2 linked regions of the Homo sapiens genome follow. The protein of the gene in region 2 purifies or fractionates together with the protein of the main gene of each other region. This does not show direct contact. Each region holds a gene or a part of one and is shown on either strand. Other genes may lie near its edges.

The links.
Region 1: the proteins of TRDN (region 2) and EMC2 purify together in Homo sapiens (co-immunoprecipitation; 3 studies listed by BioGRID and IntAct, with this or other methods). This does not show direct contact.

What each region holds. Positions count from the first base shown.
Region 1 is NC_000008.11:108,446,468-108,450,223, reverse strand, and holds part of EMC2 (ER membrane protein complex subunit 2), read right to left. Parts: intron 402-3,756; coding exon 288-401; intron 1-287. UniProt on the Homo sapiens protein: Part of the endoplasmic reticulum membrane protein complex (EMC) that enables the energy-independent insertion into endoplasmic reticulum membranes of newly synthesized membrane proteins.
Region 2 is NC_000006.12:123,630,326-123,634,081, reverse strand, and holds part of TRDN (triadin), read left to right. Parts: intron 1-3,756. UniProt on the Homo sapiens protein: Contributes to the regulation of lumenal Ca2+ release via the sarcoplasmic reticulum calcium release channels RYR1 and RYR2, a key step in triggering skeletal and heart muscle contraction.

The sequences.
Region 1 (3,756 bases), on a different chromosome or scaffold from region 2:
TTATTTAATAGTTTTACTGTTCTAAAAGAGTCCATACACAATACATTTTGGCCAGACATTTGGCAGCCCTGTGAGCTTTAAAACAAAATGCCTATTTGATAGCTTACTACTACCAAGCAATTATAAATCCTTCTCAAAATAAACTATCATTAAAATTCTTGGGACAAAAAGTCACAAAGAAAATTAATATGACAAGTAGAAAAATCATGAATGAAAGAACAGTTAAAAAAAAAAAAAGGCCCATGAATGAGGCATGTACTGAGCCTGAATGTAATAAAAGAACTTACTATCATCTCCCAGCTTAGAAGCATATTCATTAATTAATTCTTCTCCAACTTCCACAATTTGCTCACTATTTCTTGAGTTTTCTTCTCTCCATTTTCTCATTTTATCTCTCATTTCTGAAAAAAATAACATGACATTTAAGTGTATATGTACCCAGACACACACATACACATCCGATAGATGTCAAAAACCTGACAAGACAAAATCAGCTTTTTAGGTAAGGAAAATAAACTCACAATCATGTAGAAGTCTGTGGTATCTCAAATTTGATAAAGTAGAAAATTAATTGAACAAGGGCAACAGATCCTTTAGAAGACTGAAACAGCATTACAACTGGTATTATGACTATCTTTAGAAGTGATGAATGGGCCAGGCACGGTGGCTTACATCAGTAATGCCAGGACTTTGGGAGCCCAAGGTAGGACAATCACTTGATCCAGGAGTTCAAGACCAGCCTGGCCAACGTGGCGAAACCTTGTCTCTACTAAATATACAAAAATTAGCCAACTATGGTGGCACACACCTGTAATCCCAGCTACTCAGGAGGCTGAGGCAGGAGAATCGCTTGAACCCAGGAGGCAGAGATTGCGTGAGCCGAGATCGTGCCACTGCACTCCAGCTTGAGTGACAAAGCAAGACTTTGTCTCAAAAAAAAAAAAAAAAGGCAGCATGGTGGCACCCGCCTGTGGTCCCAGCTACTCAGGAGACTGACGTGAGAGGATCACTTGAGCCTGGAGGTTGATGCTGCAGTGACCTGTGATTGCACCACTGCACTCCAGTCTGAGCAACAGAGCAAGACCCCTGTCTCTTAAAGGTTGAAAAAGGAGTTCAACAGGCATATAACAAAGTAAGTTATCCTATACAGAAAGAACTACTGGTAGCTGGGAATTAAATAAACACACTAGGATCAGGAAATGAGTGTATAAGAAGTAAGAAGAGTGAGTTTCTTGGAAGACTTTTATTTCATACTAGAGAACTTTAAAGTTTGTTTTTAAAGGTACAGAAGAACAACTTAAAAATGCTGAGCAAAAGAAAAGCAACACAATCATGGCTGTCTGACAGGAAAATCATTCTGGTGCAAAAAAAAAGAAACCACTAGAATTTTAAATTTTATATGTCAATTTTAAAAATAAATAAATTTGAAACCAAAACAAAAAGCCCCAGAAGATAAACTGGAAAGGAGTAAACAGTTCAAAGAAAAGAAACTGGTTGTATTAGTCCGTTTTCCCACTGCTGATAAAGACGTACCCGAGACTGGGCAATTTACAAAAGAAAGAGGTTTAACTGGACTTGCAGTTCCACGTGGCTGGGGAGGCCTCACAATGATGGCAGAAGACAAGAAGGAAAAAGTCATATCCTACGTGGATGGCAGCAGGCAAAGAAAGAGAGCTTGTGTAGAGAAACTCCTGTTTCTAAAACCATGAGATCTTGTGAGACCCATTCACTATAATGAGAACAGCATGGGAAAGACCTGTCCCCATGATTCAATCATCTCACAGTGGGTCTCCTCCTCAACACATGGGAATTATGGGTGCTACAAGATGAGATTTGGGTGGGGACACAGAGCCAAACCATATCACCAGTCATAGAGGACGTATAGTATACTGGAAAGAACATGGACTTGATACACTTGGTTTGAATCTAAACTCCATCTTTTACATGACCTTACATAACTTACCGAATCTGTACTTAGTTTCCAATACCAATGAATAGAGATAATATTACCTTTAGCTCAGGGATGAGCAGTTAAGATTACATAAAATATATATAAAGTTGCTTGGTTCGTACAATAGTTTGGATATTTTTGTTTTTAAGTTGATTTTGATTACCCTTAGATAAGGGTATACACTTACCAGTTCTTCACAGGCACCACTATTGTCTTTCACCCAACTACATGTATTTTCATCTGCTTGGCCCTTGAGTTTAGGACACCAAACACTAGAAAATTCGTGTAAAGCATTTTATAAAATGTGAAGCCCTACAAAAATTCTAGTTACTTTTATTTTTTAAAAAAATCTGGTAACTGTTTCAGCCTCTCACAAGAAATAAAGGCTCTTCCCTCACTCTTTCCTCAAAGGTGGCTTAAAACTTTCATTTTACCCTTTCACCTTCCTGCAAAAAGCTCGCTCCTCAAAGCCAAGGTCATTTTATTACATACTATGTAAGTAAGCTTCTCACTGCTTGCTTGTACATTTTATTAACTACTGTGCAATCCTGTGAGATGAGCTAAAGGTCAAAGGTTAAGAGAGTCGCTATGATTGTTCTGTTTATTCCTTCCATGACAACTTGCATGAGATGTCACTGCAGTGAGGTGGCCTCTGAAAGATGGAAAAATATGCCTGCTACTTAATTATGATTTCTTTAGTCCAAAACTACTTCCTCCAATCCTGTATCTTTTCCACTTCATTTTTTTATATATTCGGAAATACCACTTACAGATTCATTTACATAAACCAGCATATTCTTTTAAAAGGTTGATAATTACAGGATAATAAATTTTAAATTATTCATGGTCCCATAAAAGTATCTAGTCAGATTGGCTGCAGGCTGTTGGGAACAGCTATTCTAAAAGAAAAGGCAACCTGATTTGAAAAAGGAAAGGGTTAATTTATTTTAATGCACACAGAGCTCCAGAAGACGTATTTTTCAAACTGTGTATTACAATCCATTAATAGGGTATAAAATCGGTTCAGTGGATTTCTTCCAGCATCTGTTGGGGGTGGGGGGGCAGTGGGGGAGAATGAAACAAAATGAACAGAATGGAAGCAATACTCATTAGAATCCTTTGTAAATGCAACTTTGGTTTCAGTTTATACATACACTCAAAGATTCATGTATAGGTATACTTAATTGAGTATGAGTTAATTTGTAAAAGGTGTTTCTTATTGTGAAAAAACACTCATAGGAAAGAGAACTTTTTTTAAAGCATAACTTCTAAGAACGGCAGTCTGACACACAGTCACATATTAAAATATAATAGCTGAACACAAAACAAGAAACACTGTGTATGAAAATATAACTTACAAAACAAGCAACATTTTACCTATAAACACCTTAAGCTATACACCTTACATAGCTGACCCTGCCACACTCTTGAGTGCTGCTGTAATAAATACATTTGTAGCACTATTAACCACATACTACTTTTAGAAATGCCTTAAATACATTTATCTAAAAAAATTATTTGTAAAAATAAAACCATCTTGAAGAAAACATGTTTTCACCTTTGATAGCTCATTACCTCAAAATCACAGCATCCGAAAATCAAGTCATCTTCATTTCCTAAAAATATGGCCTCCCTTCCCAATGTTCACATTTCTGTTAATTCCACCTTCTGTTAATACTACCTGACATTCCATTTTTTAGTGCTGTTTCTGACTCCCACTGTGGGAGTTTTGTATATCTAAGTCCTGTGGATTGTTTTGAAGTATTTCGAAGTATTTCGAAGATTTACATCTTCTACTCTATTTC
Region 2 (3,756 bases):
AATCAATTACCTTTTCCATCCATTTATCACGCACACACACAAAACAGTTTGTGGCACTTAAGAATATAAGAGATAACTCATTACCTTAGAAAGCTCTAGTTAACTGTTCTCATCTCAAGTTTTGGGAAGACAAGGCTCATACAGATTATATGACTGTCTCATGGTCATGGGAAATTAGGAGAGATCTGAGGATAAATTTCATGCCTCCCATGGCTCATCCCAGTGCTTATTCAACTACAGTGCATGTCGTGCCTATAACCTCACCTAGTTGCTCACATCAATTTCCACTGCAGGTTCCAAGCTGGCTTACTTCATCCAGTGGAAGAAAGGAAATAATGCTAAATACAGAATTGTGTTTCAGGTACAGAGTAATAGATAAATTAGAAATAGGACAAAGTTGAACTCCAAAGGATTTTAGGGTAATAACACCTTTGATTCTGGCAAAATAAATTAATAAAGATAATTATAACAGCAATGATAACATATTTATTCTGAAGACATAAGATGTCAAGCACTGTATTAAGCTTGATAAATATTCATTTAATCTTCAGGGCCACCAAATGAGAATAAAGGCTAATATTATTGCTGTTTAGAGAATAGGAAGCTGAAGTTGAGAGAGTTTAAAGAATGTGCTAGAATTCACACAACTGTATGTGATATAGCTAGGATTCATACCCATGCCTGACCACAGAGTCATATTGGATATGTCTTCTTACTGTGTGAGACTGTTAGGTTGGTCAATTAGGTTGTTATTGGAGCCTACACTAGGACCATGTTACATTTAGGTAGGTTGAATCAGGCCCAGACTGGATTACACTCAAACAGCACACAGGTTTAGGGCTATAAACAGTCCTTTATCTTCCTTGCAATGTAATGTATCCAAGTTGCTGGGAATCCCATATATAATTAACTTAGTATTTACTAGAACGCTTAGTTCAAGAAAGCTTTTTATTTAAAATGTTAGAAGAGCTTATATCCAACTCTCAACTTATAAACTATTACATAACCTCAGGCTTCAGGAGAAGAATTATTGCACTATGTGTGGAATTCTTTCCTTACCATTAGCCGAATCACGTTTCACTGCTTCTGTAACAATCAAACCTATGAGAAGATTTGATATTCAAAATTTAGAGCAAAAATGGTCATTTATATTCTACACACTGCATTACTCCCATAGAGTCTGCAGCACAAGATTACTCACTATTGCTCTCAAGAAAAAAAAAAAATCAAGAATTCACAGCCAGACTACTTAACAACTAGGCAAACAAGTTATATCATCTAGCATGACAGATGGTGAAATTATGAGGCGATCCAACCTATGTTTCTGCATTTACCTCATCAAAGCAAAGGGCAGCTGCCCTGGCTTAAGCGGGGATGAGCTGGGGGTACAAAGGGATGTAGCACTAGTTTCAAGCCCTGGTCACTTCCAGGAGATGTTCTTGATTTTCCTGATAAAGCAACATACCACATATATTATTTTTAGTCTTATAAGTACATTTTAAAACTGACATTAGAAAGCTAGCCTATTCAAAAGAGGAGTACCACGATGGTGAAAGGCACAGTTAAATGAAAAGATTTGTGCATGGTTTGTTTAAGTAGAAGACTGGATTTTTTCATTATGTAGCACTTGAGGGCAATGCACAGACCCATGGATAAAAGTCTGGAAGTCACAAAAAAGGCACACTATTGGCAAAATACAAGGCAAAACCCAACCAACCATTAAAATGATAGCTAGAACTGACTCTTCTGACTAGAAAGAAAGAAAAGAGAAAGCAAGAAAGGAGGGAAGGAAAAGGAAATACACAGCCTCCAATTTTTAAGAAATAGAGGGATGAGGAATATGCCAAAATCTACACCATAGTAGGCAGTAGGCTCTGGGAACCTCTACAGTACAAACAACCCAGTTACTTCAAATAAGTTCCTGGGAACAAGAACAAGAAAATCTGGAGAACAGATGAAAAGAAATGTAAAAAGTTAGCAACCCATCACAATGTATGGAATGGTTGGATCATGATTCAAACAAACAACCTTAAAAAATTCTGATGAAACAAGTGAAAATTTAATATACTCTGGATGTTAGATAACCTTAATGAATAATTATATTTTTAGTGGGATAACCGTATTGTGGTTGTCTTTTAAAATTACTTATTATTTGGAGATACACATTCAAATATTTATGAAGGAGGTGATGTGATATTTGAAATTTGCTTCTAAATAATATGCCCAAGAAGAAAGTAGTTGGGGTGTGGGTGGGGTAGGATTGGCCATTAGTTGATTATGTTGAGGCTGATAATGGGTACATTAAGTTTCATTATAATATTGTCTACTTTTGGGATTATTTAAGCTTCTTCACAATAAAGAGTTAAGAAAAAAAACAGAGTTGATGTTGTTAGTAGAGTAAATCTTTTAATAAGAATTTAATTTTCATAACATATATGGGTCAGTGAATTCTCTGGTCACCAAATTTATTCGTAAGTGCAAATTACTCTCTAAATTGAACAGTGTCTGTTGTTACTGAAATGAAAACCAAATATGCTCATATTAAGCAGAGTAGTCTGGAAATATACTTATGTTTGTAAAAGCAGACAAGGAAGTAATCATTTTTAATATCTATTATAATATGGGAATCTGGAGGTTAGTTTCATATTATTGGTAACATTAATTAGAGACATTAATTAGAAATAGTTTGTTTTTGAGATAGGTCATGGGAAAACCTGAGAACAATTTGAAAGCCTAAGAAGTCAACATGATGCAAGAAAAAATAGTTCTAAAAAGTGCTATGGCTTGGAACATTGCATTTATTGACAGGGTATTAAGTATGAAGCTTTTGTATGACTATCTCTTTGAAATATCACAAAAACTGTGAAAGGCAGGTATCACATAAACCTGATTAGTCTGACTCTGAAACTTCTTGTTATTCTTTACTGCTCAAGTTCACTTTAGGAAAATAGAAAAAAAAAAAAAAGCAGATTGTGAAAACCAGGAGAGTATAGTTCACTGAAAATCAGAGAGAAAATATAGTGCAGAGCTGGGAGAAAGAAGCATTAAGAAAAGAGAGTGTGATAGAGTAGTAAGTGCATGGAGTTTTACTTAAGTCAGAAATTGGGGTTCAGGCACTATCTCCACTACTCAACCACTCTTGGTCTGGGGAGGATGGGGCCTCAAAAGAAGGGTCATGAACTTGGTTAATTAAAAATAATATGGCCAGAGGAATTTTTAAAAATTTTACAAGATCATGCTATTTGGCAAATTAAGTTTATGTTTTTTAAATTGTTCAAATCATCCATGATACAAAATTTGCAGTGACAATGAGCAGAAAATATAGCTGTGTAGTGTCAGCCCTTGTTAGGTTCCGTTAAGAAGCTTTTTCTTGTAGTTTTTATTATTATTTGTAATAGGAACTATTTTTCTCCCCACCCCATAAGCACATAGTATCCATGAAAATGTTCCGTTTATGAGCTTAAATGTTTCTTATTTTTTTTCCTATTTATTTTTGGTTATCATTATGACTGTAATTTAAAATTCATGCTACTTTTACAATGCAAAAATGAATTGAGGCTATTCAGTTATTATACTAAAGGCTTAGGAATCCATAGAGACTTAAGGCCTCCAATACTGTTGGCATTAATTTTTAATCAGTTAACAATATTTAATATGAGAGAAACATAAAACAGTGCAACTAAGCAATTTTAAAATCATCTACATTGACCTTTGTGTTGAATATATCAATTTGAAAAGAAAATGGTTAAGATTTTC